6 separate regions of the Homo sapiens genome follow, and all the other regions are reported to be linked to region 1. Evidence: microRNA targets listed by miRTarBase, many of them from high-throughput screens and not tested one by one. Region 1 holds a microRNA gene; each other region holds the end of a gene's coding sequence.
The links. The annotated mature microRNA hsa-miR-29b-3p reads UAGCACCAUUUGAAAUCAGUGUU and lies in region 1 at 1,343-1,365, opposite strand. An mRNA with a match to its seed (bases 2 to 7 or 8) in the 3' UTR can be bound and repressed. Matches are read on the target gene's strand: a 7mer-m8 pairs with bases 2 to 8, a 7mer-A1 pairs with bases 2 to 7 and ends in A, and an 8mer does both.

Region 1 (5,074 bases):
ACCACTCAATCTTTTATAATGCAAGTGAAATCAGTGCTGTGCCCCTTCAAGGAACCATGTGACAGTATGTTTAGTTGAGCACCAGTTCCTTGCAGGAACAGTTGCTGGCAGAAGGGCTGTGTCTACAGCCCATGTGGAACTAAGGAGTTTTCCCATTCAGTAGGGAGCATCCCTCAGCCTTGATCTTCAACATTTCTTCTCTTCCCTAATCTTTTCTCTCATTTTATTTCTTGGCTCATAGAATTTCATTCTTCTCTTAATGGGCTTCATTTTTAATGTCTGGCTGGCTGTAACCTACTTCAAATTCTTTATGAAGTAGGCAAGATCTGCACAGCCAATTAATTTTTCAGGACCCACTTCTTATCATCACAGAATTATGAATGGGAAATAATAGATGAAAAACACAGACATGATAAACTGAACATAGTATTTATTAAGGTCAGGATGCATGAATAGACTCTTCTCAACAGAAAGATAATTCAACAGCAATCAATTTACAGAATTTAGAACAGCACTACATTTCAGCAAAATGCAACTAGAGAACATCAGATAAATTATAGTAATTTGTTTTTAAAAATCCATTAAACTATCTCTTACCTCTGCAATAATGTATCATACATGCAGTTACAGAAGTTAGTAGGGAAAAGCATGATCTTCCTTCCCTATTCTCTGCCCATCCATCTTCCAGGAAACCACAGGCTGCTGCTGCCCAGAGTTGGCATGAGGCTTCGAGGCTGCTGCTTTTCCCCCTACATCATAACCGATTTCAAATGGTGCTAGACAAAAACAGACTCTGAACACCAGGAGAAATCGGTCAGCCTGTGTAAGAGATGGGCCAGTGGTGCTCCCAGGGTCTGCACCTCGACAGTCCAGGTGGCAAGTCTGATTTCGGGTGCCCCGCAATCAACGCCGAATACTCCAGGGCATCCTCTAAGAGCAGACTGATGGTGTCGATGTGGACAAAATGGTCCTCCAGGTGTACTGCCCTCTCCCCTGCCCCATGACAATCGACACCCAATACATTGTTATCCAACAGAATATGACAATCGCCACACTCAAAGGCCCTACGAACACATTCATGCTGGTGATGGCTGCTAGGAGTCAACAGAAATAGCATCACAACCTCTGCCCCTGCTCAAGCCACTGTGTTTATTTTAAACACAACCCCCTTCTCTACTGTCACCTCTCCCAAAACCCAACAAACTCAAGAGTGTATTTTGCTCTTCAAGTTCTTCCCTGGACTTCTCGAACAGACTCAAGTGGCAAGAGGAGAGGAGCCAGTTCCATGAGCAGCAGTTCCTCTGCAGTCCACCCTTGGCTGTGCTGCAATTCTTACTCCTAAAACACTGATTTCAAATGGTGCTAGATACAAAGATGGAAAAATCTAAGCCACCATGTGAAACCAGCTTCCAGAAGAAGAGGATCTCAATGAAGAAAGAAGGGAGATTCAATCGGAAGACCCAGCCTCTGCCCTGAGGAGAAATATCTTCTTGTAGTTCTACTTGTGATATGACACAGTGCTCCATGGGAAAGGCACAGAGGAGGTTACACAGGGCTGCACAAGGCAACATGAAAGGCACAGCTGATGCTTCAAATAGATGAGAGCAATACAAAACTCATTAATTCTAGGTTAATTCTATTTAACTTCACACCAGTCACTACAAATTATTATATATGATGAAATAAAAGCTAAAATTATTACTAAAATACATTAATATTTACATTTGTACTGCCCTGCATTTGTATAGTATTTCACAGTACACAAAGTGTTTCCAGATATATTCTCTTACTTCATCAGGACACAAGCACCCTATCTGCCTGTGGAATGAAGCTCCAGCTGCTACACAAAGGCGAGTCTCACCTGGGCCAGGACAACTCTTTTATGTGTCTTAACTTGAGAAAAGCATGCATTCCTCCTTCCCACCCCATATGTAAGTATCAGAACATTCAAATATGACCCCATGAACCTGCAATCTTATTTAACCCCGATGTGACTTCAAAAACTGGTACCCTATAATTGTATTAAGCAGATAATCCTCTAACGTAAGAATTGAGTTTTATTTTCAAAGTCTGCTTGAAAATAAGATTTGCACACTGTATTCCAAATTAGATTTCCCATCTCCTTACTGCATCATCTTTTTTGGTGGTTTGAAGCTAAGAAAATATGTGTATTTCCTCTGATACCATAACCAAGAGAAAAGAGACAGAGTAGACACTGTATATTTTAGCTTCCTTTCAGGCCTCTAGATACAGCCTTATAATTTTTATGGTTCCTGGCACTAACAGTATGTGTTGCTAGAAGGAGAAGAAATAGAATTTGAACATCAAAAGTTGCGGTGTTTAATTCTCACAACAGTCGTATGGGGCAGGTATTATTCCAATTTTTGCGAAGAAATTCATCCTTAATGAGGCTAAATAACTTGTCTGCAGTCACACAACCAATCAATGCAGATCCCAGGTCTAACTCCAAAGACTGTGTTTCTGCCCTTGTATCCACTGCAGCCTGCTCCATAACTTGACTATCATCTCATTTTGTTCTTGAACTTCATTAAGAACAAAACAGGGTGGGTGGGGCAGGAAATTCCTAGGCGATACTTCTGCACTGAATGGGATCATACTGACTACATAACACGTTATACTTAGGGGGAGACAGGAGCATCATCTGGGTTCTGCGAAAGCCGGGTGGTCTGGGGCAGCTTGCTTTGTTCTCCTGCTCCTCTAGCGCCTTTGCCGTCTTTCCCCAGCATGTGGCTGTGGGAAAGACACTGAAGATGAACCTGCAACAAGCGATTCTGACACCAGCGCTAGGCTCTACAGCCCACGGGGGACTTGCTAGCCTCAGTCACAGGTGGGAGAGCTGGGGCAGATCTGCACACAAGGGCTCTCAGTGATGACACCTGTAGCCAACACCTGGGGCTTGTTAACCAGGTAACAGCCAGGGTTGTAAGGTCAGGAGTGAGTGTTTAAGGACAGTTACTACTGGGAGTCCAAATCCTGTCAAATGAGGGGATTTGATGAGATTCTCACTTTTCTGCTTTTCATTTTAGCCACTCTTCCTTATCAACTTTTAGTTACCAGTACCCCCTCCCTATGAGCTATCACACAGGTGTCCCGCAGTGATCAGAAAGCACCTTCCTCCATGGCGAGGTCCTGCCTGCCTAAGCTGTTGTCTCTTCTGGAATACTCTCCTTCACCCTCCCTTGGCTACCACCCCTCAGCCCCGCCCCCACCCACCACCACTCCAGGGAACCTGTCATCCTCCCCGCAGCTCAGGAAAGCCTCCCTGAGTCCAGCCCTTGCTAGAAGGTTAAGTGGTCCTCGCCAGCCTCAAGTTCTTTCCTTCAAAAACCACTTATCTCACTTGGTCATCAGTGTGATTATTTAATGTCTCTCCTGCTACCCGTAAGGGACCATTCGGAGTACAGCAGAGGGGCTGTGCATAGCAGGACGCCACTGCCACTGAGGGAGTTAACAGAAGCCACAGTCTGGGTCCCCACTCCTGGATTCTAAAATTTAACTCTTTACTCTCTGGAAGAAGAGATAAGAAGCCATTAACAATGCATCACTTTAATTAAACACTCTAAAAGAAGTGGAGAAAAAAATCATGTTAGTATTGAAATCCTTTGCCTTTCCAATTCCACTGGATAAAAGGGGTCCTTCAGGTCTCAGCCCTCCCAACAGAACCAGTTTTCTCCTCTCAGAATCAGCTGAGCAATGACTCTTCGCTGAAACAAGCTGGTGGCTGTTCCCTACTAGGAAGCAGCCAGTTAGTTTGGTAAGGGCTGGAAGGGGCTTGCTTTCCCTGGCACCATGCCTGAAGGCCACCTAGACCTGTAAGAAGGCAGCCCATGAAAATCCCAGCCTGCTGAGAGCTCTGCCATCCAAGGAGGGTGATGGGTTTTACCCACCTCAGCCTAATGACTCCAAACAAACTGGCTGAAGGTGAAAGGGTTGGCAGGGCTGTCTGGGGAGGAAAACCACCCATCCAGAAGGGTGGGCATGTCAGTCTTACGAGTGCTGCCACGCATGGGAAAGGTGTGGGAGCTATACTCTAGCCTGGTCCACTTCTGTCCCCACATTCTACCTGGAGGCTTCTCGACCTCACACCAGGGCATTAATCTGCTTGGGCACACAGTGAATCAGAACACAATGGTTTTAATACCTGCTTGGCCCCAACTCTGAGAACAGGGACCTGCCACTTGCCCTGAATGGGCCTCAGTGTCTTCATGTGTAAAGAGAGGAGGCTGAGGTAGGCTGCTCACAGCACATTCAAATGCTCGGAGGGCTTGGGCAGGAAACCTGAGACAGAGAAGCAGCAACAGCATGCAGCAGAAATACAGTGAACTGGAGAGGCCATATTTTGTCTAAATGCATGCAAAATCAGATACATTAAAATAACCCTAGCCAGGTGTGGTGGCACCTGTAGTCCCAGCTACTCAGGAGGCTGAGGCATGAGAACTGCTCGAGCCCGGGAGGCAGAGGTTGCAGCAAGCTGATATCGTGCCACTGCACTCCAGCCTGGGCTACAGAGTGAAACCCTGTCTCAAACAAAAACAAAAACCCGTGCAGGCCAAACACACCTGAGGGTTAAATACCATCTATAGGCTGTTGGTTAAAAATAGTTTGGAGACTGCAAAGACAGCTTCTACTTCATTCTATAAATGATGCTTTGTCTTTAAAGCCTAGCATGGTACCTAAAAAATAACATGGGAGGAAAATGGGAAGGTGAGGGAATCCTTCTTTCTGAAATCCATAGGCAAACCCACTGAACAAACAGACACTGGTCCCCAGTTACCTAACCCTGCTTGCTTGTGCTGCGCTACCACAGTGTGTGCAAATCCAGAACGTGGGAAGGTTCTGCCAAGGCAGTGCTGGGTGCTGAGTCACAGCTACTTACGTGACTGATGTGTGTTCCAGCCAGATGGGGGGAGCCGGAAGCCAAGCCCAGATGGCCATCTTCTTTCCTCTGGGAATGCTGATTTCAGGGCTCCTGGCAGCAAGGAAGAGCTCATCTTGGTGAGAGAGGGGCCTGGGGAAGGCTCTTTTGTAAAAGGGGAATGTCTTGCCCTCAAGA
Region 2 (5,074 bases), not on the chromosome of region 1:
CTGATAACCAATGGTTTATTTTGCATAGATGCGGACATTTTGAATTAAGCCTGTACAAACACAATTTTCACTATCTCTATCAGGGCATCCCATGGTGTATACTCTGCAGGCTTTCAAAAAATGCATTTGATTTCATGGGCTTACCACCATTTCCTTTGGTGTTGATTATACTCAAATATCTAAACCTGCTGATCATTCTAAAGGATGAACTTAAGATCTAACTACAAATGAATTTTTAACTTCATCAAACATAATGTTTACCTTTTAAAACATCCAAATGTTTATTTTCACAAGCTTAGTAGTACAAGATGCAACATAATTCAAGAAAATCAACCACAGTGCTAATACTTTAATATATTATTCCAAATATTAGACGTTACAGTTTAAATCTTTTTAACATTAGCTCTAATGTTGGAATAACATTTAAGTTAATAAATAACTGTGAATATAACCATATGTTCAGTCTATTCTCCCCAGTTTATCCTAAATGACAATTTTATTGTGATTTGGGTCATAAAAGTGATAAATAATTGTTTATATGTTTTCATAAATTGCATGTTTATTTAATTAATCCTGAAGAGAACCTAGAAATACATTCCAATGGGTTACATAAATTAGACGTATTTTTTAGCTCTTCGATTTTTTTTAAACATGAGTGAGTCACACTGTAACTGCTCTTAAATTTAGTGTTCATTGCACATAACATTTTTTGAAATGTATTTTCACAGGCTATAGGTAGTCATTTGCAAAGATGGCCACAATTTTTGATCCTTGAATTAAATGTCTTTCATTTATTTCAGAGAATTATGAGTTTCAAAAGCTACTGCTCTTATGGGGCAATCTGTAGAGTACTAAACTCACAAAATTTGTGGTAACAAAAGAGAGTTTTGTTACATTACACTTTCCAAATAGTAACCACATCTTCCTACTAATTTTCATGTTAAAAACACTTTAGGAAAGACAGAATTACTTTTAGGTATAAAATGTTCTGAATTTGCAAATTCTATAGTGCTTATGAGAATTTATATTGGCTTTTATATTGTTTGATAAGGTTGTCTGTGCCCCCCAGACTTCCATCTTCAGTTGCCACAAAGGCAAATTCTCTGTGAATTGTTCGTAACGTGAGGTTGGTGTCAACATGCTGCAATCAGAGGCCTTCTAGGATTCATCTTACCATTTGAATTTACTGCTCTAGTTTGGAATTTTCCTGTCATTATCGAGTTTAAACCAATACATGTGTTGTCTGGTTTCATGGTCTGAGAACAGTATTCTGTGCTCTTTGGAATCAGATCTCTGATAAATCATATAGCTCAATTTCATCACATATGTTTTCCAAAGATTTCTAATCTCCTTGTAAAGTCTTCAATACTGAGCAGCAGCTCTAGCTAGCACCTATGAGCTGCATTAGGAAAAGGCTCAGATAATAAAAAGATAGTATAAGGGTTTAGGAAAAGCATCAATGGCAGAAATAAAGTGTAGGAATCTTAAATTTAGGCAACTACTTAAGTCCAGAAAATATTTCCTTCCAGTACAAAAGGTTAAGGCTCTTTGAAGAAAATGTTATCTTCAACAATGGAAACATACATTGAAATTCTGGTCCCCAAGTTTTTAAGAAAGCCTGAAAGCTTAAAATAAGACTCTTTCCCTTTTGTACACTTTTGACAAACTATGTGCGTTTTCAGTGTAGGGACCACCTTTCAATTTTAGGGTACTTGTACTCTTCCTTAGGGAAGAGACAGTTGGCATTGTTTCATGGCTGGGTATAATTCATTTATGTCTTCCCAGTTTTTCCTCTCTGATCTCTTCTCTGTGTATCTGTCAGCAGTGGTCTCCTGGGAGCAGCACTATGCACTTCATTAATAAGAAGGGATTAAAGAAAAAAGCCCCAGTCTCCTAATACACTTGGATAATTTGGTGCCATCCACAAGGCGATAGACCCCTGCTGCATAGATGTCATTAGAAAGGTACAATTTCATTACTTTTTACTGGCAGAGCCTTGAGTGAAATACAAAATATGTTGTCTCATATGTAGGGGCAAAAAAGTGCTAAAGCTTTCATTCATTTCATGCCCCTAAAAATAGTAGAATGCAAAAAATGTATTTTATGGTTTTCACATGTATATTGCCTTCCTTTAGTAGTCCTTGAAATCATACTTCCTATTAAATATTGAGCAAAATAAAGATTAAAAGAAAATTATTTATATTCTTAAATCTCAAATGAGATTTATATATTTTTATTAATTAACACACTTGTTTTGAATACATACTATGTGCCAGGCTCTCTGCTAGCTACTAGAAAACAAATTACAAAAACACCATTCACTTTTCTTTAACCGTAACTTATTGAATGCTATAATTGGAAGTGAGTGTAAAAGTGAGTGTATATGAAATAAACCATATGGCAGAATAAAAATGATTATAAGCCAGTATATTGTAAGTGTATTCAAAAAATCTGCTTAACACTTCCTTGTTAACCGAACTTATTTTTAAACTGACATGTTTGCTGACGGTTGATATTACCTTTTGAACTGAACCACCCTGATTTTAAGCCTCTAAGTGGTATATTGTGCAAACATTTGAAATGACGGTGCAAACCATCTTTGGGAGATTTGTACCCTAGTTTCTATAGGTGCCGTCCCAGCCAGGAAGTAACTATGTGTCACTGGCGCAGTGTGTGGTGTGGCCACGCCCCCTGAGAAAGGGGCCTGGGATTTAGGCACCTGCGGTATGCCAGTGGCACTCCCAGGCATAACACTGGTGTGACGACTCTCTGGGAATCTCACACATCACTCTTTCCTAGCACCGAAGAGAATCAGGTTTAATAGTGGTCCATTATCTCACTGCCACAGACACACAACTGCCATTAACGCTAAAAAGTGACACAGAGTTGGAACCATGCTTGAGAGAAGACAGCCCTTGATCATCAGTTATTTACAAGTCACTCCTTGCAGTGATAGGTTTCTGCTTTACTTCTAATAGCTTTTGTTTAGTGAAATTGACATTTGCACTTCTTTGTCTAAGTTAACGGCTAGACTAGACAGTTAAGATGACAGAAACTGGGGTTTCTGGAGAACATTCTAGTGACAAAAGGCAAAGCAGGACAGAAAAACCAATTATTTTGACAAGTAAGTGAGTCAGTAACAAAAATAGTTTAAAAATGTGTTGGGTTAGCTACAATATATCCAGAAATGAAAGATTGTTCGTCTAGTAAGCTTTGAATACAGAGTGATCTGATGTCCTCACCCTTTTATTCTGCAACCATGTTGTACCTTGTCTGTCATGCATTTTAATTCACTCAAATATCATTACACTTGCAGTAAAGATTATCAACAAATGTCACGAGAAGTGAGAGAGCAGAGATTGGGACAGGGCCTTTACACCTTCTAGAGTGAACACAGCTTAATAATCAACAAAAAGCCAGGACTCAACTAGCTAAGTTCTTGTTATCAAAAATATGTCTCAGCTAATGTTTAAATATAGATAACCAAAGTTACAAACAAAATCCCCAGTTTTGCCAATAAATTTTTTAAAAATAAGCAAAGTGGTAAAGGGGTTAAAAGCTTAGATCGTAAAACTGGTGTGGTGCATTTGAGGGTGTGCACTGAAAACAGATCAACCGTTTGATACCCGAATACAGATCTCCTTTTTGTTTGTGATTTTTGTATGATGATAACTTTGCCTCTGCCTCTACAAGATTTTACGAGTCTGCTTGTCTTGAATCTCAATAGGTGCCCTTATGATTTGGGAAGGATTTCTGAATATTCTTTTCAAATTTCTGGGCTTTAGTCCCACATTACCTTGGGCATTGAGGAGGAAGAAATACCATGAAATGAAGTTAGAATTGAAACTTGGGTATTTGTGATATAAATGGAAGGAAGTAACTGATGAGCAGTGACACTTGCTAATGCTCTTTTGCCAAGGTAGTCTATGCATAAGGGATTGCTCATAAAAGAACTTGTTATATTTTCTCTCTTGAATGTGCATGACTGTGACATACTGTATTTTGCCATTGTTAAACTCAGTTTAATAGAATAAATATTCAAATAAGAATTGACTATACCAATATTCCAGTAGAGAAGGAATAAGCTGATAGACGTGTCTTTGAGTTCTGTCAGGCAAGACTTAACCAAATCTTGACACACGGTTAAAATTGGTTGTTAATGAAAGGTAACTAGATAAAATAGGTATATATTTGCTTAAGAACATTTTAAAAATATTTCTTTTTTTAGATTTGGAATTCACAATAGGTTTCTTCCGTTCCTCCTTTGTAAATTATGAAATATTTATTGTTTAGACTGAGTAATATGACATGAAACAACAAACCTGCACATTTCTAATTTATAACAAATCTGTTTCCTTAATGGGTGGAAGGAAATCTGAGGACAGTTCTAAGGAGTCTTGTCTGCTTTCAGTGCGATCTTCTAGTCATACTGAAGACAATACCTCTCCAGATTGGTCTTTCCCCTTCTTCTCCTCTCCCCGGTCAACGTCAATCACATGCACCACTCCAGGTTTTAGAATCAGGTCATCCGTCTCTACCTGACTCCTGTTGTCCTCCACCTCCATGTAGCTTCCTTTTGTTTGCTGGGCAGCTTTGCTGAAGGCTTCTTTAAAACGACGTTTGAATTCAACATCTGGACAGAAGACATACTCATAAAGGCCACCAGCGAGGACAGCTCCTATGATGGGCCCAACCCAATATATCTAAGGAAAAGATGGAAGAGGATAGAGTGTAAGTAGAGAAAAGCTATTCCATTGAGCAGCTCATGAATGTAGAATCTAGCTGGGTTAAATTAAGAGTGTATTTGTGTCATGCATCAAAAAGAGGGGAATTGGAGAGGAAATAAGAAAACACACCAAAGCCTCATCAGAGATCCATAAATTATTAAACTGCATTTGAACAGAAAACAAAAAGAACTGTTTCATCTCCTATCCTCTTTTCATTAATTATGTTCTTTCCATCTTATGATAATCGTTAATGTAAAGATAGATCCTCTTTGGTGGTACTACAAATTAAGCGCACTAAGAATTCTTTAACTAAAATAAAAAAAAAATTTCTGGAGAGTCCTTCTCTT
Region 3 (5,074 bases), not on the chromosome of region 1:
GGTTTATCAGGATGTAACCCCATCATAAGTCAAGAAGCATCTGTATTTAAAAGTGATTTTGTGTTTAGAATTTATCCTCTAAAACCCTATAGAAAGCTCTTAGGCAGAATGGCATGATCATATCTGCTCTTTGATGGCCCTTGAAAAAAGAGAAGAGGGAAGAAATTGGAAGCATAAACACCATTGGAGCTGAGTGATGCTGAAGATTTAATCTGGGGTACTGGCGGGGGGGAATATTGATCAGGAATGAAGTGAAGAGTGGGAACAGCTGACATAGGGTACACCTCAACCTCATGAATGCTTGGATTGGGAGTAGCAGAAGCAGAAGTTCACTCACTAGTGTCCTGAAGTTCTTTCACATCATCTGAAGCTTTTTAAAAACATGCATTATGCACTTACTATGTGCCAGGCATTGTGTGATGTGTTTTACAGGCATTAGCCCACTCCTTACATCCACCGTGTCTTGACTTGCATTCAAGTGTGTGGGTGGGGAGAGTGGCTGATTCATCTTGCACTTTCTCATAGAAGCACAGTCCTTCTAGTCTCTGTTTTAAAAGGCTACATATGACTGCACTGGGAAGGCATCAAATGACTACAGTACAAACAAAGTATTTAATGAATGAAATTGTGTCTACAATTCTCAAAAGTTTGGCAGTTTTTGGCAAAAAATAGAGGATGCTATGGAAAGAAGAGAGAGGAATCAAGGATTCTCTGTTTCAAGCCTAAGTAAGTGGAAGAAGGGCACCATTGTGTAAATAACTCAGGAGAACCTGATTTGATGTGGTAGTATGTGTTTGTCTTTTTGCATGAGTTTGAAGTGCTAGGTTAACAGGGGGCTCGCAGGGGAGCTGATATAAGAGCTGTAGGTTTATACGGATATCAGGTAACTTCTTAGGGCTTTGAATATTTAAGGAGGTGAAAAACAAGATGATTCTAGGCACAAAGAAGGGAAAGCATTTTATTTTGGAGATGATACTAAAGGGGCTGATCAGAGCAAAGTCAGTTGTCAAGACTTCAATCTGGAGTCCAGGAATGGAGATGGAGACAAAAGGGAAGCCCGTAGTCAAAGTCAGATTTGGCAAAACAGAATTGGGATCCAAGATAAAAACAGTCTTAAGATGGGAATAAAGAAAAAGTAATGATTACCAGGAGCCCCCAGACACACACTGCATGGAACAGAAGATCTTGCTGCTTTTCATTTGCTGAAGAAGCACCAGCCATTTCTTCGGGAAACTCTTTATGATTTTGCCTCCTCGAGAATTTTACCTGCCTTTTCAGTTAAGCATCAAGATTTATCACACTGACTTCTGGCTAGGGATGAATAAGATGTAACTTGCTGAATACCACAAATGAGAGACCTGGAAGCTACTATGAGCCATGAAATTCCCAAAGGCCATCACTGGTGAAATACTGGTCGGGCTTCTGGGAAAGGTGAATAAGAGCATCATGGCAAGATGTCAGCAGTAAAGCAGAGTGGAGACTGAAGCTAAATTGTTCCCAACTCAGGCGTTCTCTGCTCATAGAACAATAGCAGTGGCTAAGGTACATGATTGAGTGCTAACTCTATGCCAACTCTTTTCATGAATTAACTCTGACAAAGCCCTGTCAAGTAGACTCCTCTACCCTCCTCAGTACAGGTCCTATAAGTAAGGAAACTAAGCACAGAAAGCTTAAGTGACTTCTCAAATCCCACAGCTAGTAAGGATAGAGCCGGAATTTGCATCAAGACACTCTTACTTGGAAGTCTTAGCACTTGGGGTTACTATGACGACTGCCAAACAGCCATGACCTCCCAGGCAAGTGACTGCTAATGTCTAGCTGGACAGCTAGGGAAGAAGCCAAGGAAGGGATTGACAGGGAGAATCTAAAATACACATAATTTTCATAGGGTGTTAGAATTAGTGCCCATTTTAAGAAGCAGATGTTCTGCTTTTCATCCAATTTGAACCTTACAGTTTCACAGTGTTTCAAACCAGGCAATCCCATACGAATGCCTCAGCAATCTTTGCACTACGTATTCTGAAAAACTGAACATACAAGACCCAGTCATCAGGTGATCATTATGAAGAGACATGTTCTACAGTGAAAAGAAAAATCTTTTCAGTATCTTATTGTCTTAATTGACCTTTTGTTAACATGAAATGAATTGTACATGTGACTTGTTTAAAATCATTTATTATTATCAGGAGTGCCTTTTAGGTGGACCGCTCTGTATGACTCTCATGCTTCAAAACTATTTTTTATTCAAGTGACTTACAATGGCCCTAGGAAACAAGTTCTGTTATTATCCCCCATTTTAAAATGATGAAAATGGACAAAGCAAAAGCAAGCAACTTAACCAATACCCCATGGCCTCACAGCCTTTAGAATAGTCATATTATATAAATATGGCAATAACAATGCACTGAAAATGTCTCCAAAACAAACTCTACATTTTAAAAAATGTATAACAGGAATCTAAGGAAGGGGTCTTACTTCTCTGATTCAGGGAGTGCGAAATCCCTTAAACTCATATCAGACCTGTGATGAACAAACTCACACTAAGTTTTAAAAACTGCTTAATTTACTTTATCATGACTAGTAATATATAAGAATTTTGTATATACTTTATTAAAAATAACTTTGGAAAACTATTTTTGCCTGATCAGCAATAAAACTACTGATAAGATAAGCTGGTTATCAAATAATTCCCTAGTGTTAATCTGGCAAATAATTGTTATAACCCAATCTTGTGAATTGAAGACAGGCACATTATAGATAATCAAAAATATTAGAAACACATTTAAAATGTCCATATGTTTAGTATAAATAGAAAATTCATTGACTAAAATAAGTCATGAAACATGGACTGGAATTTTGTGAGCTATTAAGTTTCATTTTGTTTTACTGTTTTAAAATTTAAATAGTTTGGCTCATTTCTACATTTGTTAAAATTGTAATCTTAAAATATTAAAAAAATAACTTTACAAACACACAGATATGACTAGCCATTTTATCTAAGTTATAAAATAGTTACCCCAGGGAGCCTTCAAGATCCCTATATTTTAAAGCTTATTTCAAAAACCATCACTACTTCACATTTTTAAACTGCATCCTTGCATTACAGAACTGTAAATGTGTTGTCATACAGTAAATATCCACATCCCAATTCTAATTACACCATTCTTGTTGTTAACACAGAGCACTGCTTCTAATAAAAGCATGGCATAGTTCTACAGTTTCAATGGCAAAATTAAAGGTTTTTTTTGTTGAAGAGATAATGAAGCAATCACCAAGATATTTGAAACAACAAAGTTAACATTACAATGATTTCAAGAAAAACTAAGAATATATACACTTACATAAAACAAAAAAAAGGAATAATTCACTTTATGAGAGAAGAAAAGAGAGACAGATTTTTAAAATATTTGGATTCTTTAGCCCATATGGAAATTAAAAAAAAAAAAAAAACTGGAGAGAGAAACAGAAAGAGACAGAGAGAAAGAGAGAGATGCTACTTGACATTTTAAAGACCAAAAACTTGCAGTAGTAAAAATACATTCTGAAAGTATTTTAAAACTTAAATTTCACTGGCAAAAGTAGGTAACAGAGGAGACACAGATTCAGTGCAGGATTTTATATACAATAAAACCTAAAACTAAACTCCACCAAAATGAAATTGTAATAGTCAATGCCTGGCTAGAAATCTCCCTTTGCACAGTGAAAAGGTCACATTACAAGAATAAAATAATAGCAAGAATGCAGTCTACACACTTTAGATGTTCAGGAAAACAACAGTTTCCAAGCACCACATGAACACTTAATTAACTGGAGATAATGTTAAAGCAAGGTCTCTACAATTTTCCATTAGGTTGTGCTTCAAATAGTCTATAATAAGGACTTGAATTAATTACATTTTATTGCACTATAAATTGGCTGTTGTCATTATACCCAAATGTAACAAATAAGGCAGACTTTAATTTCTCTGTAGACCTCCTTGGATAGAAGATAAGTAATTTAAAAATATGTAAAAATTGAAAAATTTGTGTACTTGTTTATAGTGTCTCTCTGTAAATGTGCATTTGACCAAAGAGATTCCATCCAAATAATGAGAGAAAAACCCCCACAAATAGCATCTTCTGCTTTAAAAAATTCTTGGTTTGTAATTTTTTTTAAAAGTCATAAAGCCACTGGCTTTCAGAGACTTATTAGAACACACTCATCTCTTCATGCATGCTTCTGCTAGTGTCCTAAATTTGGGCTCCAAATTATCCAAAAATTCAAGCCCATCTTCTTCTTGTCGTTCACTGCAACAACCTACAGACCCAGCCACCGATCCTCTTCCTTCATAGTTATATGTCAGGACATAGTCTTGGGCATGCTTGTGATTTTCATCTTGATTACACAGATACACTTTCTGCCAAGGGGAAAAACACAACGTTTTTATTATTATTATTTTAAACACCAAAATTTACTAACATAAAAGTAATTGCTTTGATTTACCTTTCATTGTTTAATTTTTAATCAGAGTGTGTCCTCTAATGGATTCCTATACATAAAAAATGCACATGATTGGTCTGTTTCATACATCACACTATAAATTCAGTATAGCATGTTTCTAAAAGTCACGCATGTGGCAGCAAGTATACAGGTGTTCATTTTACATAGTCACTACTTTCCCTTTCAAAATTTTAGCTGAAAGTGACATGCATCCATTAAACTGAAGACAAATTGATATGGGCTCAGTTCTTCCCAGATAGACATAGTGATAGTACATGCTGGTCTTGCTGGTACCACATTTTTGGTTTCTAAGGTACAAGTTGTCAGATGGGAAATATTAGCACAAAGCCATGAGACAGTAATTTAAATCTCATCACACATTATTTAGTAATTCTTTCAATTAAAAAAATAGGAGGGGAAGTAAATAACCACTTAAATCTGAACATAACTAAATTAAAATTGAGGAAAAATAATAGCTTTCAATTAGTAGAATTAGTAGATTCATAATTAATTGAAAATTATAGTCAGAATCCAGTTAGTTATTTATAAAGTTTAAAGAAAATTAAAATAGATTTGTAGGCCACTTAGGAAAACT
Region 4 (5,074 bases), not on the chromosome of region 1:
GCTGTGCAAGATTCTGGTATGGAGGTTGTGGTGGAAACGAAAACAAATTTGGATCACAGAAAGAATGTGAAAAGGTTTGCGCTCCTGGTAAGTGATTCTTCCTTGTGTTTATGGCTTCTGCAAATAAGAGATTCAGGTCAATAAGTCACCTTGAAAAATATTAGAAGTGCAATGATTATGATACATGTGAAAAAGAAGATAAAGTGTATCCTCAGATAAGGAAGACGTTCAAATACAACCCATGAAATGTCTTTTTGAATTCCTATTTTGGGTTTCTAAAAACATATTGTCCCTTGTCATTCTTCAGAAATGTTACTAAGTTGCTGTTATTTGTAAAATATTGCACCAAAAATGATTCCTGGGAAGATAATATAATGAACAACTACAGATAACGCCAAAGATAAACAACCCCCACAAATTTATCTTTTAAATAGTTTTGCTTCCTATAAATAACAATGTTGTCACTGGGGCCATCCAGTATCTCCATTATATTGTGCAGTTCAACTGGTAATAAAATAAACACTTTGAACAGAGCCTGGGGTCAGTGCCAGAATGGGGAGAGTTCAGTTCGTATAAAGGCCTGGTAGATGGTGCAGGGCAAAAGAATGGGATCAGATTTCCCAGACATCCCTGGGCCCCGGGGCCCCAGGCCAAGAACGTCACAGAGGGCCTTTGATGGTACTGAGTAGAAAAGTGGGACAGGTGATGGAAACCAGAGGCTGCGGGACTGTGTCATGATAATGACAGTGCCCTTTTGGGTCAGTAATGTGGCTTTTCCTCTCTTCTCTCGGCTCCTCACCTCACCCCACCCACCCCCTCTCTCGACGCTCAGTGCTCGCCAAACCCGGAGTCATCAGTGTGATGGGAACCTAAGCGTGGGTGGCCAACATCATATACCTCTTGAAGAAGAAGGAGTCAGCCATCGCCAACTTGTCTCTGTAGAAGCTCCGGGTGTAGATTCCCTTGCACTGTATCATTTCATGCTTTGATTTACACTCGAACTCGGGAGGGAACATCCTGCTGCATGACCTATCAGTATGGTGCTAATGTGTCTGTGGACCCTCGCTCTCTGTCTCCAGGCAGTTCTCTCGAATACTTTGAATGTTGTGTAACAGTTAGCCACTGCTGGTGTTTATGTGAACATTCCTATCAATCCAAATTCCCTCTGGAGTTTCATGTTATGCCTGTTGCAGGCAAATGTAAAGTCTAGAAAATAATGCAAATGTCACGGCTACTCTATATACTTTTGCTTGGTTCATTTTTTTTCCCTTTTAGTTAAGCATGACTTTAGATGGGAAGCCTGTGTATCGTGGAGAAACAAGAGACCAACTTTTTCATTCCCTGCCCCCAATTTCCCAGACTAGATTTCAAGCTAATTTTCTTTTTCTGAAGCCTCTAACAAATGATCTAGTTCAGAAGGAAGCAAAATCCCTTAATCTATGTGCACCGTTGGGACCAATGCCTTAATTAAAGAATTTAAAAAAGTTGTAATAGAGAATATTTTTGGCATTCCTCTAATGTTGTGTGTTTTTTTTTTGTGTGTGCTGGAGGGAGGGGATTTAATTTTAATTTTAAAATGTTTAGGAAATTTATACAAAGAAACTTTTTAATAAAGTATATTGAAAGTTTCCTGGGTGTGACGTTCTTGGCAGTCTTGTTTCCATAGCAGCGATTGTCAGAATCACCCCTAGGCTGGGGAAACTGGGTTTGGTTCTGGCCCCATGGAGCTGTGCAACAGCCTTTCGTTTCCAGTGGAGGAGGCAAAAGAGCTTTATCAGCCAGTGTGCAAAGAGACCGGCTGGAGACAAGCATCCCCCGCTTTGTGGATTCAGCCCCACATGCTCCAGTGCTCCATGGCCGAGCGGAAGGTGTTCCTGCTGTTGGGTCCCGGCAGTGTTTCTGATTTTCAGAGTCAGGCTGGCTTCTATCTTTTCCTCTGACTCTTGGTTGGCCCTCAGAGCCTCAGCCTCCTCCTGTCTTCCTCTCCACAGTGATCCTTTCCCAGGGGGTTGATTTGCTTCCTCTCACAATGGCTGAGAGATTCAGTGTTGCCCCACGACCCCCAACCCCTTTTCTGGAGTCTCAAAGCACAAGGTCTTTCATTTTTTTGTTTTTCTTAAAGACTGTTTTTTTCTCTCTTCAGAAATAATACAAGAAACCAACAAATACATATTCAGGTGGCACTTGAGTTCCACTTACAAAGGAAACAACTTATTGGATAAAATACATATGTCCTGACAAGTGCTGAGGGTAGAATTACAGGAATCTTGGGTGTCAGCAGAAATGTTTTATGTAAAATCGGGATGAATTTGCCAGTTGGTCTATTGGGAAAGGAGAGAGGAGTGTGGCCCTCTTCAGAAGCGCCACTTAGTCCCCACAAGGTCGCCATGACCTCCTCCCCAGTCCTCTTCTATCTCGGCAGCTACCATGGGGTGCTCAGGTCAGTGTGCTCTGAGCTGTGACCCTTGGTGACCAACCCTGGGATCTGCCAGGCACCCAACACCAGCCTCTTGCAGGAACTTGCGGAGCAGAGAGCTGTGGGCCCAGCTCCCATAGCGGTGGGCTGAGTGCTCCACTTCCCAAGGGATCCCTGCCCCCGCCACCCCCATTGACTTGATCTGCTATGGACCTAAAATGAGCATCACAATCTGGTTTTACTTTTTGGGTTCCTCCGGAAGCAGCCCTTAGGACTAAGGATATGGGTGTGAGTAGTTTATTTGGGAGGTGAAGGAAGTCACTGAGTGGCTGAGAAGTGGGGAGTGAGACAAGCAAAGGGAGAGCACTGTTAAGAGGTGTATAGTCAGCGTCCACTGTGGGTGCCCAGAGCCCAATCCCTCGGGGAAACCCTGGGAGGTGCACCTGTGGCACTGCACCTCGTAGGCCAGCAGAGGGCTGAAGGAGTTTGGGTAGTCATACACCTGTTTCCACGGGTCACTGAGGCATTCATGCTCTGGTCCTCTTGGCTTGCAGGCACACTGGCAAAGGGGCCTTCTGTAGTGTAAGAAAATGTTCTTGGCAAAGACCTGCAGATACTCCCATGTGGAACTTGGGGGAGTAGTCAGGCCCAAGGTACAGGAGTAGGACACCAATATTTGTAACATACCTAGATGGTCTGCTCAAGGTGTGTTACAATAGACTGGGGCAGGGCCCATCACTAGGAGACTCACTTCCAAGGGCTCCAGAACCCTCTCTCCCTTTCCACCTCCTGTTGCCAGCATGCCCATCCCTGCCATTCTTGGTTCACTCTATCTATGCATTGCTTCTCTGTGTGTGTCCCTTGGCTGCTCAAGGTTGCTGGGACAATCACACCCACCATCTCACCTGACTCAGGAGAAGCAGGAAGTGATGTAAGTCCAGGTGAGTGGCTGGTTAAGCTGTGTGTGCTGCTAACTTAGGGTAAGGCAAGGTGCTCAGGTGGTGGATGGGCAGTTTCTCCCATTTATTCCCACAGAGCAAATAAAACAAAATCCTTTGTTACATTGTCTGTCCTAACTTAGGGTTCAGCAAAACATGATCTGAGCTGCAGGATTCCTGACCCCTTGACAGCTCGTGGATTTCTCTTCCCAAGACATTCTTCTGCCAGACTATGCCAAGGACTCTGTGTCCTTTCTTGAACCCTGACATGTCCCTGACCCTCATATCCACTCAGCTCTCTCTGGGGAAGCCTCCAGCCTGGCCCGTGGAAGGTGGCCTGCCAATAAAGAAAACCTGTTTTGGATTTTGTGACTAAGAAATAAACTTCTATTGAAGTAAGAGACTGAGGTCTTGGGCTGTTCTAGCAGCTGGTGTGACCGTAACGAACACAGCGCACCTTTATCCAGAAGCCTTTGTGGGTCAGGTGCTGTACTAGGTGTTTCACACACATCTTAGGTGGTGCCGTTCAGTAGCGGTCATTGTTCCAGTTTTAAAGATGATGAAACAGAGGGTCAGAGTGGTCCTTTTCACCCAGCTATGTTCTAATGGAGGATCTGGGCAAGTTATGGTGACCCAGAAGCCCTCTCAGAGTTCCAAGGTTGGCTCCTGTGGGACGCTCACTGCCATTCTCTAGATGTTTCTGGCTCTTTCTCTGGAAGTCAGATCTAAGCCATGTGTCTTTTCCCAGAACAAAGCATGCCCTCCACATGACCCTCCCCAAGACCTTCCGTCACTCTTTCTCAGACAGCAAGTCTCTATCCTTCTCCTTCCTTTCATTGTAGTCTTTTCCATCTCTTCTCATTATCCTGAGCTGCTCTGGCTTAGGAAAGAACTTGGAGAAGCTGGGGGCTCTGGCACGCATTGAGGGCTTGCGCAGAAGGTGGCCTGGGCTGAGTATGGCCTGCCTGGGCTCCAAGGCCGAGTCACGAGGACGTCTATTTGTGCTCAACTGTGAGCACATCTCAATCCTTTCAACAGCAGCTTTGCTGGATTTTTAAATACAAGTGCTTTATACTTTCATTCCCTCAACGATTTTCTGCATAATTAAAAAGAAATCACAGCACTTATGAATGGGTGCCAGGCTTTTTGTAGAAAGCCAATGTTTTGAACCCTCAAGAACCATTTTAAATTTCTTTCCCCATGGTGGTTCATTTTTAGGAGATGGTTCGTATTTTCCTGCCAAATTTCCATTGTTGTCAGATTTCCAGCTGGACCTAGCTGCTCTTCATGAGCCAGGCTCTCAGGGTTCCACCTATCTGGGTGTGGCTTCCGGAGAAGTTGGGGACTGCTGACACTGCCAGGCCAGGGGGCCCAGTCCAGAGGCTGCCCTCTGCCATACCCCTCCTCGGTTTAGTTTGGGTCTGAGCTTTGCCGCTGCCTGTGCCTCCCCTTCCCTGGGAGATGAATACTGATGGTGAGCTGCTGTAAGAGCCATGGGATTCCTGGGGTCTTCCTGCTTTCTTGGAATCATGCTCTCCAGCTTTGGGCCACCCCTCAGCATTCCTGAGATCCCATGCAGAGCCAGTTCAGAAATCCTTTTCCGTGGTATTCCCTAGTCTTCCACCCAACTTTATGGTGGGTATAAATCTGCTAAAGACCAAAACACCAAAGAAGTAGTATTTTGGAATCTAGTAGTCAAAGCTTGAAGGCATTTGGTCAT
Region 5 (5,071 bases), not on the chromosome of region 1:
CCAGTGTTGGGGGTGGGGGTGCGTGCCCTAACCACAGAACCGGGCTTATGAAAGTGTGGTTCTAGAGGCCCGGCATGGTGGCCCACGCCTGTAACCCCAGCACTTTGGGAGACTGAGGCGGGCAGATCACCTGAGGTCAGGAGTTCGAGACCAGCCTGGGCAACATGGTGAAACCCTGTCTGTACTAAAAATACAAAAATTAGCTGGGTGTGGTGGTGGGTGCCTGTAGTCCCAGCTACTCGGGAGGCTGAGGCAGGAGAATCGCTTGAACCCAGGAGGCGGAGGTTGCAGTGAGCTGAGATGGCACCACTGCACTCCAGCCTGGGCAACAGAGACTCAAAAAATAATTAAAATAAAGCCAGGCACGGTGGCTCATGCCTATAATCCTAGCACTTTGGGAGGTTAAGGCGGGCAGATCACCTGAGGTTGGGAGTTCGAAACCAGCCTGACCATCATGGAGAAACCCCGTCTCTACTAACAATACAAAAAAAAAAAAAAATAGCTGGGCGTAGAGGTACACGCCTGTAATCCCAGCTACTCAGGAGGCTGAGGCAGGAGAATCACTTGAACCCGGGAGGCGGAGGGTGCAGAGCCGAGATCGCACCACTGCTCTCTAGCCTGGGCAACAAGAGCAAAGACTCCGTCTCGGAAAAAAAAAATGTGGTTCCGGGGCCTCCCAGGGGACAGCGTGTCATAGGTTGCTCAGGCCTCCAAGCACGGTCGGTGGGCCTCCGACTGCAGCCTTGGTGCCCACTCCACCAACCGGCAGAAGAGCCGGCCCTGAGTGCTGATGGGGGGATGTGTGTCTGATGGAGGGGTCTCCTGAGAGGTCAGTGATTGCCTACGATGGGGCTTCCCTCCCAAGTCATCAAGTTCATGGGAGGCTGCATCCCATGGGTCTCTTTCAACACCAGCCCTGACTGAAGAGCTGCTCTCTTCAGCAGTGTATTGTTGGAGCGAGTGCTGGAATTGAGTCATTGTCACTGGAACAGCTGGTCACCGCCCAAAGACGGGGAGCCTGGGTCCCAGAGACCAGTCCCCAACATGGGTGCTGGGTCTGGGGAGATGGCCCGTGACCAGGCTGGGGTGGCATTTCCCTGACACTGGGCCTTTGTAGTGACAATCCCCTCTGTGCTGACGCCGCTTCTCAACGGTGGGATGGCTGAGGCCTCTGACTCCTGGGTGAGGCCAGCTGTGTCCCTGACCATCTGCTTGGCCTGTCAGTGGCCAGGGCACTCTCGAGGTGGCCTCCACTCTTCCCCCAGCCCTGGGTGCAGGTGGGCACCTCTGCAGGAGCCAGTCTTGTCTGGAGGTTCTCTGAAGGCAGGAACCCCCACAGGCCCCAGGGCATAGCAGCGCCTCAATTAGCCGAGAGCAAGGCCTCTCGTGGTGATGTGGCTCTTGTTGTTTGTCCCGGGCCCTGGGGCACCCGGCTGAGTGTCTTGGTCCCTCTCCCACCCCACCTGTGAGCTTGGGGTCTCCCCTCAGAGGCCTGAGGAGATGGTGTTCCCTGGGTGCTCCTGAGCACCAGCCCTCACTGCCAGGCTACTCTTGGAGCAGCACAAGGTTAGGATGTGCTGGCCACCGCCTTGGGGCTGGTGGCCGCCTGGGCACTCAGGGCCTCCTTTGGGCCGTCTTACCTCGTCTCTCTCCTCCAGGAGGCAACGCACGGGCCACAGGCATGTTCCTGCAGTATACAGTGCCGGGGACGGAGGGTGTGACCCAGCTGAAGCTGACAGTGGTGGAGGACGTGACTGTGGGCAGGAGGCAGGCGGTGGCGTGGCTAGTGGCCATGCACAAGGTACCTGAGCCCAGGCCAGGGAGGCTGGGCCCTTTGGCTTAGACAAAAGCTTGCCTTTCCCAGAGGAAGCTCTGTGTCCTGCCATTTGCCCCCTATCCCCACAACCTGTTCCCCCTCAGCTGGGGTGCCCACGCCATCTCCCCTGAAATGCACACAGGCTTGGCTCCACCAGGCACAGGACCAAGCAGGCCTCACTGTGTTGATCTTGTCTGATCTGCAGGCTGCCAAGCTCCTCTATGAATCTCGGGACCAGTAACTCTACGTGGGGCTGAGCTTGGAGTACGTGTGGTCACCAGGACTGAGTCGCTTGGAACAGCAGAGCCTGCTCCTTGCGTACCACAGGGATTAATCCTGCTTGTGCTGGGAAATGCAACTCACTCATGTATTTGGAGAAACAGGAGTGTTCACTTATCTAGTGCAATATGTTCACAGTTTATTAATGCTTTAAACAGCTTCATGTTTTAGAATTTGTGTATTGTCAATACTTAATTGGGGGTGGGAGAGACTGAGCTACACTACTGCTAAACTATTTTTAGCATAATATATACCATTTTTATGAGTTCGCAGGTCTACTAGAAGGTTCTGGCCCATCAATATTCATTTCATTTAATTCTTCCACAGAACCAGTTTGGGCAGTAGGAACTCAGGCTTCTGGTCTGCAGTGGAGCCTGTTCGCCTCTAATAGCCAGTTTACAGCACTTGCCTTAGCCTGTTTCACAGACTTGTCCACTTACCTTGTCACTAATTTGGGGCTTCTGGGCTGTGAGTGATCCTTTGATACTTCACCAAGGGGAACGTGGGGGCTTTGTGTTTTGTACTTTTCACTCACTATTTCACTTTATTAAGATGACTGTACAGCAATTTGTATATAAAGCTTATGATTAAAAACTATTTTGAACATACGGACAAGGCCTCGCCTTCCTGTGTCCAGATCACCTGAACCCTCGTGCCACAGCGCAGTCTGGGTCCAGAAAGAAGACTCACAGCCGCCGGGGTGAGACGGGTTTATTGTGCACATTTACACAGCGTCAGCAGCGTCTGGGCTGGCAGCGGCCATGCTCCTGTGGTCGGGCTGCTCTACAAGGGCGTTCACTTTTCTTCACCACACTATGTACAGTCAGTGCTCCAAGGTGATGGGCTACAGTGCTGCATCAGTGAGTCTGTACACACATTTTTACATAAATTACACACGACTCATACATGAAAAATAGAGCCTAAGGGCCTGTATTTTAATGAGAAAAAAAAAATTTCCAACATAGTTCGGGTAGCTTTGAATGGTCTAGTCAAAAAATACTTTTGGTATATAAAAAGCCTGTACGTACAATTCACACCTCAGTGAAGCGCCCTCCTTGCCTTGAGGCTGGGCCTGGGACAAAGGTGGCCTCACAGCCAGCCCAGGCAGGGAGATCGGCAGAGAGGGGTGGCCCCTGACCCCAGCTCCTCTGCCCCAGCTGCTGCTCCTTGGTGGCGGCCCCTCCTGACACCAGGCGTCTGCCATCCTTCAGGCACCAAACAGCCCCGTCTACCTGGCCCTGGTCTGCCCTCACACCAGTCCACCCCCAGCCCCAACCCCAACCACCCTCCGCTGCCACGGCCTCCAGCACCTGACTCCATTCAGGGAACTGAATTTGAGCTTGCAGGGGTGAGAACCACACTGAGCAGCATGACAGGCTGTGAGATCGGAGGAGAAGAGTATATGCTGAGGCTCTCCCAGTTGTCACTTGGTCTTAGGGGTCCTGGTGCCCGTGGCGCGGCAGTCCAGCCACAGTGCTGGGCCTGCACAATCAGCCTTTAGGTGAACTGGAACAGGAAGCGGAACCCCCAAGGCGGCCGAGCAGAGTGGGTACTGGGAGGCATACACACTGGGCAGCAACACTGGACATGTTTCCATACAGAGGCTCCTTTGGTGATGAAGGGAAGAAGGATCATGTGTGGGAAGTGTGAGAAAGGATGAGTGTCCGATTCGGTGACGGGGGGCAGGGCGGTCGCAGGGGAGCAGGCCTCACAGCGGCGGACAGTGTTCACTGCTGGAGGGGGTGATGGCCTCGGGGCCAAGTCAGTAAGAGCTTCTGTCTTCACTGGCAACCAACCGGGGGTTATGGGACTTCTTAATGGCAAGAGGGGTGGGTGTTTTGAAAGTGGGTATTTATTTGGATTTATAGTAATTGGCAAAATTCAGTCCTTGGAGGCGAAAGTACCTCTCCCAGTTAATGGGCAAACTGGAGAAAGGGCCTCACCTGGAAACTGTAGGATTCACATTGTGGACGCTGTCTGCTAAAGTGAGCACCATTAAGACCATTTTCTAGCTGCAGCTTTCCTGGAAAACAGCACAATAATCTCTTAAGTGGCTCCTGGTAGCTGGCAAGACCATGCGGTGCTCCAAAAGGAAGTTCAGGCGAGTGTTCGCTGTCGGGGTTTGATCCGTGGATACAGCTGGGAAGCAACGGAGCCGCGTCAGGACAGGAAGCCACACACAGGGAGCAGGGCCAGCCAGACCCGACCCCTGCTCCTCACCTCAGCCACCCTGGACAGCCGTGCAGCACCCTTGTCCCTCAGGCCTACGCTCAGCTGCACCTCTACACTGAGACCCACCCAGCCCTCTTTAAAATGTGCCTTGTACCCCCAGAATATCCTATTTTTCTCACAACACTTCATGCCACCTAAAGACTTGTGACTGCCTGTGGCTCTCAAGGTCATAAGCTCCCCTGGGCAAGGGTCTCTGCCTGGCTCCCTGCTGTGTTTGCCTGGCCAAGAACGTTGGCTCAACAGCAAGCCCCTGGCAGCTCTGCAGGGCACAAAGAGAGCAGAGGCAGCTCCCTCTGCCAGAGGACTGAGGGAATCACAAGTCCAACACAGAGCTAGCAGCCTGCACGTTCCCACCTCTCCCTCCACTGGAGAAATTTCTAGGCTGCAGAGATTTCTAGATTGGGGAAAGTGTGGGTGGGCTGAGCCGGGCCACTTGGTGAAGTTCATCATGAACCGAGCTCATTGAGCGGCCCCTCACTGGGGCACTCAGCCTCCGCACGGGCCTCCATGGCATAAGCATGGCTGGGGGAACCTCCTGGGGCCCTGCCTGAGCCTCATGCCAGCTCTGCCAAGTAGGCACCTCCCCCTCTACAGAGGGGGCTGCTGAGGCTCAGAGAAGCGAAGCCTCCCTCCCCAGCCCCACAGCAGGATAGGACCGCATGCTGTACAGAGACACGGGCAGCTAGTTTCCCAGTAAGTAACCTGAGTGCTCACCCCCAGCAGGTTTTTGGGCACATAGCCCTC
Region 6 (5,074 bases), not on the chromosome of region 1:
CTGGGATTACAGGTATGTGCCACCATAGCTGGCTAATTTCTTTATTTTTAGTAGAGATGGGGTTTCACCATGTTGGTCAGGCTAGTCTTGAACTCCTGACCTCAAGTGATCCACCCACCTCGGCCTCCCAAAGTGCTGGGATTACAAACTTGAGCCACCATGCCCGGCCCAAAATTTTCTTTACACCTATATCCCATACGGACCTCACTCTGCTTTGGGGGAAGAGGAATGTCATTTTTTTTTTCCCTTCACACTACCTAGTCTAAGAGGGAATGTCATTTTTTCAAGCCTCATCTGTACCCAAAGACTAATTCTTGGAGGAAGACAATATAACTAGTAACTTTTCTCAGAAACATACGTTAAAAAGCTATGTCAAATTTCTCTGAATAATGAAAATGTTCATGTTAGCTATTATGCTGTTTTTAAGAAATCTCCCAACTACCTGATCTGCCTTGAGCCATGTATCCTTTGAAGATATAATAGAAGTAACTGCCTCATTTTGGGGCGTTTACTACTTTTCCTCTCCTGTAACTTCTAACTTTGTGGAATATTAACTTCCCCTGAAGGAGGAAGGAAATGGAGACTAAGGAATTTAATTGTTGAGGGATACACTGATTATAAGTGGCAGAGATGAGATGTAAACCCATACCTCGCATTCAAGTCTGAATTGAACTATACACCAGTGAGGGGGATAAGACTGCCTTTAGACCAGTTAGACTTCTGGAAAGCCACTTAAGAACAAAGCAAGACAACCTACTTCATTTTAACTATAACATACCTGCAAGACCACCTTTAAGAAGAGTTTTGGGGCCGAGTGCGGTGGCTCATGCCTGTATTCCCAGCACTTTGGGAGGCCGAGACAGGCAGATTAACTGAGGTCGGAAGTTCGAGACCAGCCTGACCAACAAGGAGAAACCCCATCTCTACTAAAAATACAAAATTAGCCGGGTGTGGTGGCACATGCATGTAATCCCAGCAACTCAGGAGGCTGAGGCAGATTATACCATTGGACTCCAGCCTGGGCAACAAAAACGAAACTTCATCTCAAAAGAAAAAAAAAGAGTTTTGGGTCACAAAAAGAGATATTCTCACATGAAGTGTCTAATCTAGGGACATTCTCAAGTATTTGCTTTTTCTTTCATATATTACATCTCAGGGTATCTAAATTCACTCCCAGGAAATTTAGTACCCATCAAAGAGGAGTCACAGACAATGAATACTTCAAAATGCTTGAGCCTCAAAATAATGAAAGCGGGCAAAATTAATCAAGAATCAAGCAATGAACAACTAGTCTATAACACAACATTTTTCTACTTTCAAGAAAACACAAGCATTCTTACACATTGAACACCCAGCCACCCTTGTCTAGCAGTTACCACAAGTTTCATGAATAAAGTCACCTGCATATAAATTCAACATGCAGATTAACACTCTATACCTTCTTCCTCCCAAAAGCCCAGTAAAAAAGCAGGAGTACAAATTACAAAACCAGAAAAATTAAAATAGGAAGAAACAATACTGAAGAGCTCAATAAATGTATTGAACATGGTAAGAAGAGTGGTATCTGCCTTAGCAGGGCTATCACAGATGAGTGACAGTAGGACTGATCCTGCAGAATTCAGGCAGGCCTAGGATTTAGAGGCAAGAGTGTGGCATGGAGCTACACAGAGGCAAGTAATTTAATGCTAGCCAAAAACAAAATGCAATACAAATTGGAAAATTGTCTTAGAGAAATATCCCAGACAGAAAAAAAAAAAATAAATAAGGCCCAAGATTCAATTTGGGAGCTCCACTATGTCATAGAGTTCCAGAACAAAGAAAATGAGGAGGAAGAGAAGAGATGAAGAACTTAATATTTTCCAGGTTGCCAATCCCACCAAAGCACAGTATCATGCAATTTTAGAACACTAGAAACAGAGATGCTGAGAAAACAAAGAAATAAAAATAAAAACTGCATCAGATATCTCAAGATTTTGCAAATTAGAATAGAGCAATGCCTTCAAAATTCTGAATTTGAATACACTTGTCAAAATTTTCAAAAATTCCAAATTTGATTTTCCACCTAGAATTTCCATGCAAACTATCTTTCAGAAATATGAAGTCACTAAATAACTGACTGATCTCTCACGCACTCATTCCCAAGAAACTACTGAAAGAAGTGCTCCATGTTAACAAAGAAGTAAATTAAGACATGGGATCCAGAAAATGAGGGATACAATTCAAGAGAAAGAAAAACAAATCCTCACGATAGTGCTGTCTCAGGAAAACTGCTATACAATTGGATGAGAGAAACTAGTCTAGATTGAAACAAGTACAGAATCAAGAAAAGTTGTGACAAATTTATTTGGGACTGTTTGGGAAGAATCAATGATGTGCATAAAAAGCCAAAAAAAAGAGCATTAACTCCAAGACAAAACGTTGTATGAGAATGAAAATGTAAGCACATTAAATTAATTCACGAGTGAACATACAAGTATGATCACAGCTATGCAAACAGGTACATGATCTAACCAAAATAATATTAGAAGGATGTGAAACAATAAAAGAAATTTTCACCTGTCTTAATAGTAAGTTGACAAACACCTAAAAAATAAATGGCTGTATAATCATATTATTTAGAAACCTAAAACCAAAAACTGAAGGCTGAAAGAACCGAGCTAGAAAAAACTGAAGGCTGAATGTCTCTTGGGATGGGACTGAGGAATAGGAAAGGATGGAGCAAGGGGCTTTCCTTATTAGCCTTGAAGTACCATTAAACTATGTTCAGGCTGGGCACGGTGGCTCATGCCTGTAATCCCAACACTTTGGGAGACCAAGGCGGGCAGATCACTTGAGGTCAGGAGTTCAAGACCAGCCTGGCCAACATGGTGAAACCCCATCACAACTAAAAATATAAATTAGCCAGGTGTGGTGGAACACACCTGTAATCCCAGCAACTCAGGAGGCTGAGGCAGGAGAATCGTTTGGACCCTGAAGGCAGAGGTTACAGTGAGCCAAGATTGCGCTACTGCACCCCAGCCTGCGCAACAGAGGGAGACTGTCTCAAAAACAAACAAAAACCTATGTTCATACAACACTTTAATAAAAATTCATTATTTATTTATAATTACATGTACATACATATATGCATTTGAATATCTAGAAGAAACTACCATTTGCAATCTCTTTTCCATGGTTCTAACCTACTTGGAACATAACCAAGTGACAACATACAAACAAGTTCTAGATTCTAAACCTGTTTTCCACTGCACTGTAACTGGGGGATGGGACTCAGCAACAGTGACTCCATAAGCCAGCAAATGATTTTCACCTAGAGGGAGCACCAGACTTCCAAGAGTTGTTGGGATGTGGGAGGGGAACACTAGTTTGGAAAAAAGACCTTAAATGATTTTGATACTTCTCCCTACAGTATATATGCTTCCCTACCCCTCACGGCGACCTACAGCAAGAGTATCAAAGAAACAAGTCTACGGATTTGAAATGGCATGTTGCTTGCACTATATATTTTAATCTAAAGTTTATTAAATGTTAACGTGTTGTCAAAATGCTTTTCATAAAATGAAAGAAATATACCTCATGGGCAAACAAGCAGCAATATTCTTTTTTGTTTTGCTTTTGAGACAAGGTCTCACTCGTCACCCAGGCTGGAGTGGCACAATCACGGCTCACTGCAGCTTTGACCTCCTGGGCTCAAGTTACCCTCTTGCCTCAGCACCCAAGTAGATAAAGAGTAGAAGCACACACCACCACACTCATTTTTTAAATTTCTGGTAGAGACAGGGTCTCGCTATGTTGCCCAGGCTGGTCTCAAACTGGGCTCATGCCATCCTCCCGCCTCAGCCTCCCCAGAGTGCTGATTATAGGCATGAGCCACACTGCATGTTGCCAAGCAGAAATATTCTTGAAAGTCAGAAACCTTAATCCCAATTATGTATTGCTACATTCTTTTCATCTACTTTAATGTTTGTAAATATACACATAAAGCTTTGTCTCCCTGCCCACCTGGCCTAGTCATTTTGGACTCTGTACCTCAAAGCCATAAATAATATTTCTTCTATTAGAAGAGAAGCACTTTCAGTGTGGAAAAAAATCTTTATTTCAAAGTAAAATGCACAAAGTCTCATACAGCAGATAAAATCAGTGTTACTGCTCTCAGATGTTAAGGTTAGCAACCTTTCTGGCATATGCTAATTCATCATGAACTCCCAATAGCTGAACTGAATGGCTTTTAAGTACAGCTATAAGGTCTCATGGTATAATTCCTTTTGTTGATGCCAGTGACAGGATTTTAAAAGCTACATTCCATTAAAAATTAAAAATACAGCAGCTTTTCCAGGGGAACTAGATCCCAAAATTGTACCCAGAACTCTTGTCTAAGATATTAAGTTAAATATCTTGCATGTATATATCATTATAGTAAATCAGTATTCTTGACAACCACAGTGTAAGAAATTAAACTTTGGCTAATTGTTTTCCCCATCATGAAATCAGTCTTTTGCTGTCTTCATAAATAAATTATGACCAAACATTACAAATACTTTATACATGTTTACTGATTTACAGAGAATATTTAATAATCAGAACTCACCAGTTTCAATAGTATTGTACATTAAATTATAAGCAATATAACCACTGCTACAAAAGTTATCTAAGTTAATCCAGGATAAAAACTGTGTCTAGAGTTTAAATACATTGAAATAGAAAAAAAAATAGAAATTAGAAAATAGTCTTCAAGTTCTGAAAATCTAGAAGAATTCTCCAACATCTGCTCTCTTATCTCGACATTTGCTTCTAGCTTTGGTTCGAGCTTTGAAGGCTGCAGAGTTATATAAATGCTAAAATGAAAAAAAGGAAAAACGTGCATCAGTAAGACTTAAGATATTCTTACAAAACAGAAAAAGGGTAAAAGTCACAAAGAAAAGAAATGAACTAATTTGACCCTATAAACATTTAAATGTTTATAAAACACACACAAAGAATGAAGGAGAAAAACAAAGAGTTAACAGGGGCCATGCAAGGTGGCTCACACCTGTAATCCCAGCACTCTGGGAGGCCGAGGTGGGCGAATCACGAG

Region 2: miRTarBase lists AQP4 as a target of hsa-miR-29b-3p. Seed matches in the 3' UTR shown: 7mer-A1 at 2,797-2,803 and 7mer-A1 at 1,387-1,393.
Region 3: miRTarBase lists DSC2 as a target of hsa-miR-29b-3p. Seed matches in the 3' UTR shown: 7mer-m8 at 3,784-3,790 and 7mer-m8 at 1,210-1,216.
Region 4: miRTarBase lists COL6A3 as a target of hsa-miR-29b-3p. Seed matches in the 3' UTR shown: 8mer at 1,039-1,046.
Region 5: the mRNA of PPP1R13B is a reported target of hsa-miR-29b-3p. Seed matches in the 3' UTR shown: 7mer-m8 at 4,084-4,090.
Region 6: miRTarBase lists IFRD1 as a target of hsa-miR-29b-3p. Seed matches in the 3' UTR shown: 7mer-m8 at 3,319-3,325.

The regions. Positions count from the first base shown.
Region 1 is chr1:207,801,108-207,806,181 of GRCh38, forward strand. MIR29B2 (microRNA 29b-2) reads right to left here and starts at 1,416; the gene lies at 1,336-1,416. MIR29B2CHG (MIR29B2 and MIR29C host gene) reads right to left here. Exons shown (of 6, transcript NR_135299.1): 5 at 4,898-4,990; 6 at 411-1,555. MIR29C (microRNA 29c) reads right to left here and starts at 832; the gene lies at 745-832. RefSeq lists an enhancer at 4,560-5,074.
Region 2 is chr18:26,851,787-26,856,860 of GRCh38, forward strand. It overlaps AQP4 (aquaporin 4), which reads right to left. Exons shown (of 5, transcript NM_001650.7): 5 at 257-4,703. The coding sequence ends at 4,425. Among named protein-coding and RNA genes, the nearest start is that of AQP4-AS1, 11 kb to the right of the region's middle.
Region 3 is chr18:31,063,817-31,068,890 of GRCh38, forward strand. It overlaps DSC2 (desmocollin 2), which reads right to left. Exons shown (of 16, transcript NM_024422.6): 16 at 1-4,396. The coding sequence ends at 4,199. Among named protein-coding and RNA genes, the nearest start is that of DSC3, 24 kb to the left of the region's middle.
Region 4 is chr2:237,320,573-237,325,646 of GRCh38, reverse strand. It overlaps COL6A3 (collagen type VI alpha 3 chain), which reads left to right. Exons shown (of 44, transcript NM_004369.4): 43 at 1-87; 44 at 833-1,629. The coding sequence ends at 873. Among named protein-coding and RNA genes, the nearest start is that of COL6A3, 91 kb to the left of the region's middle. RefSeq lists an enhancer at 1-1,139.
Region 5 is chr14:103,730,962-103,736,032 of GRCh38, forward strand. PPP1R13B (protein phosphatase 1 regulatory subunit 13B) reads right to left here. Exons shown (of 17, transcript NM_015316.3): 16 at 5,042-5,071; 17 at 2,234-4,234. The coding sequence ends at 4,193. It overlaps ZFYVE21 (zinc finger FYVE-type containing 21), which reads left to right. Exons shown (of 7, transcript NM_024071.4): 6 at 1,659-1,801; 7 at 2,022-2,703. The coding sequence ends at 2,057. Among named protein-coding and RNA genes, the nearest start is that of ZFYVE21, 18 kb to the left of the region's middle.
Region 6 is chr7:112,475,191-112,480,264 of GRCh38, reverse strand. IFRD1 (interferon related developmental regulator 1) reads right to left here. Exons shown (of 12, transcript NM_001550.4): 12 at 3,062-4,835. The coding sequence ends at 4,746. Among named protein-coding and RNA genes, the nearest start is that of LSMEM1, 3.3 kb to the left of the region's middle.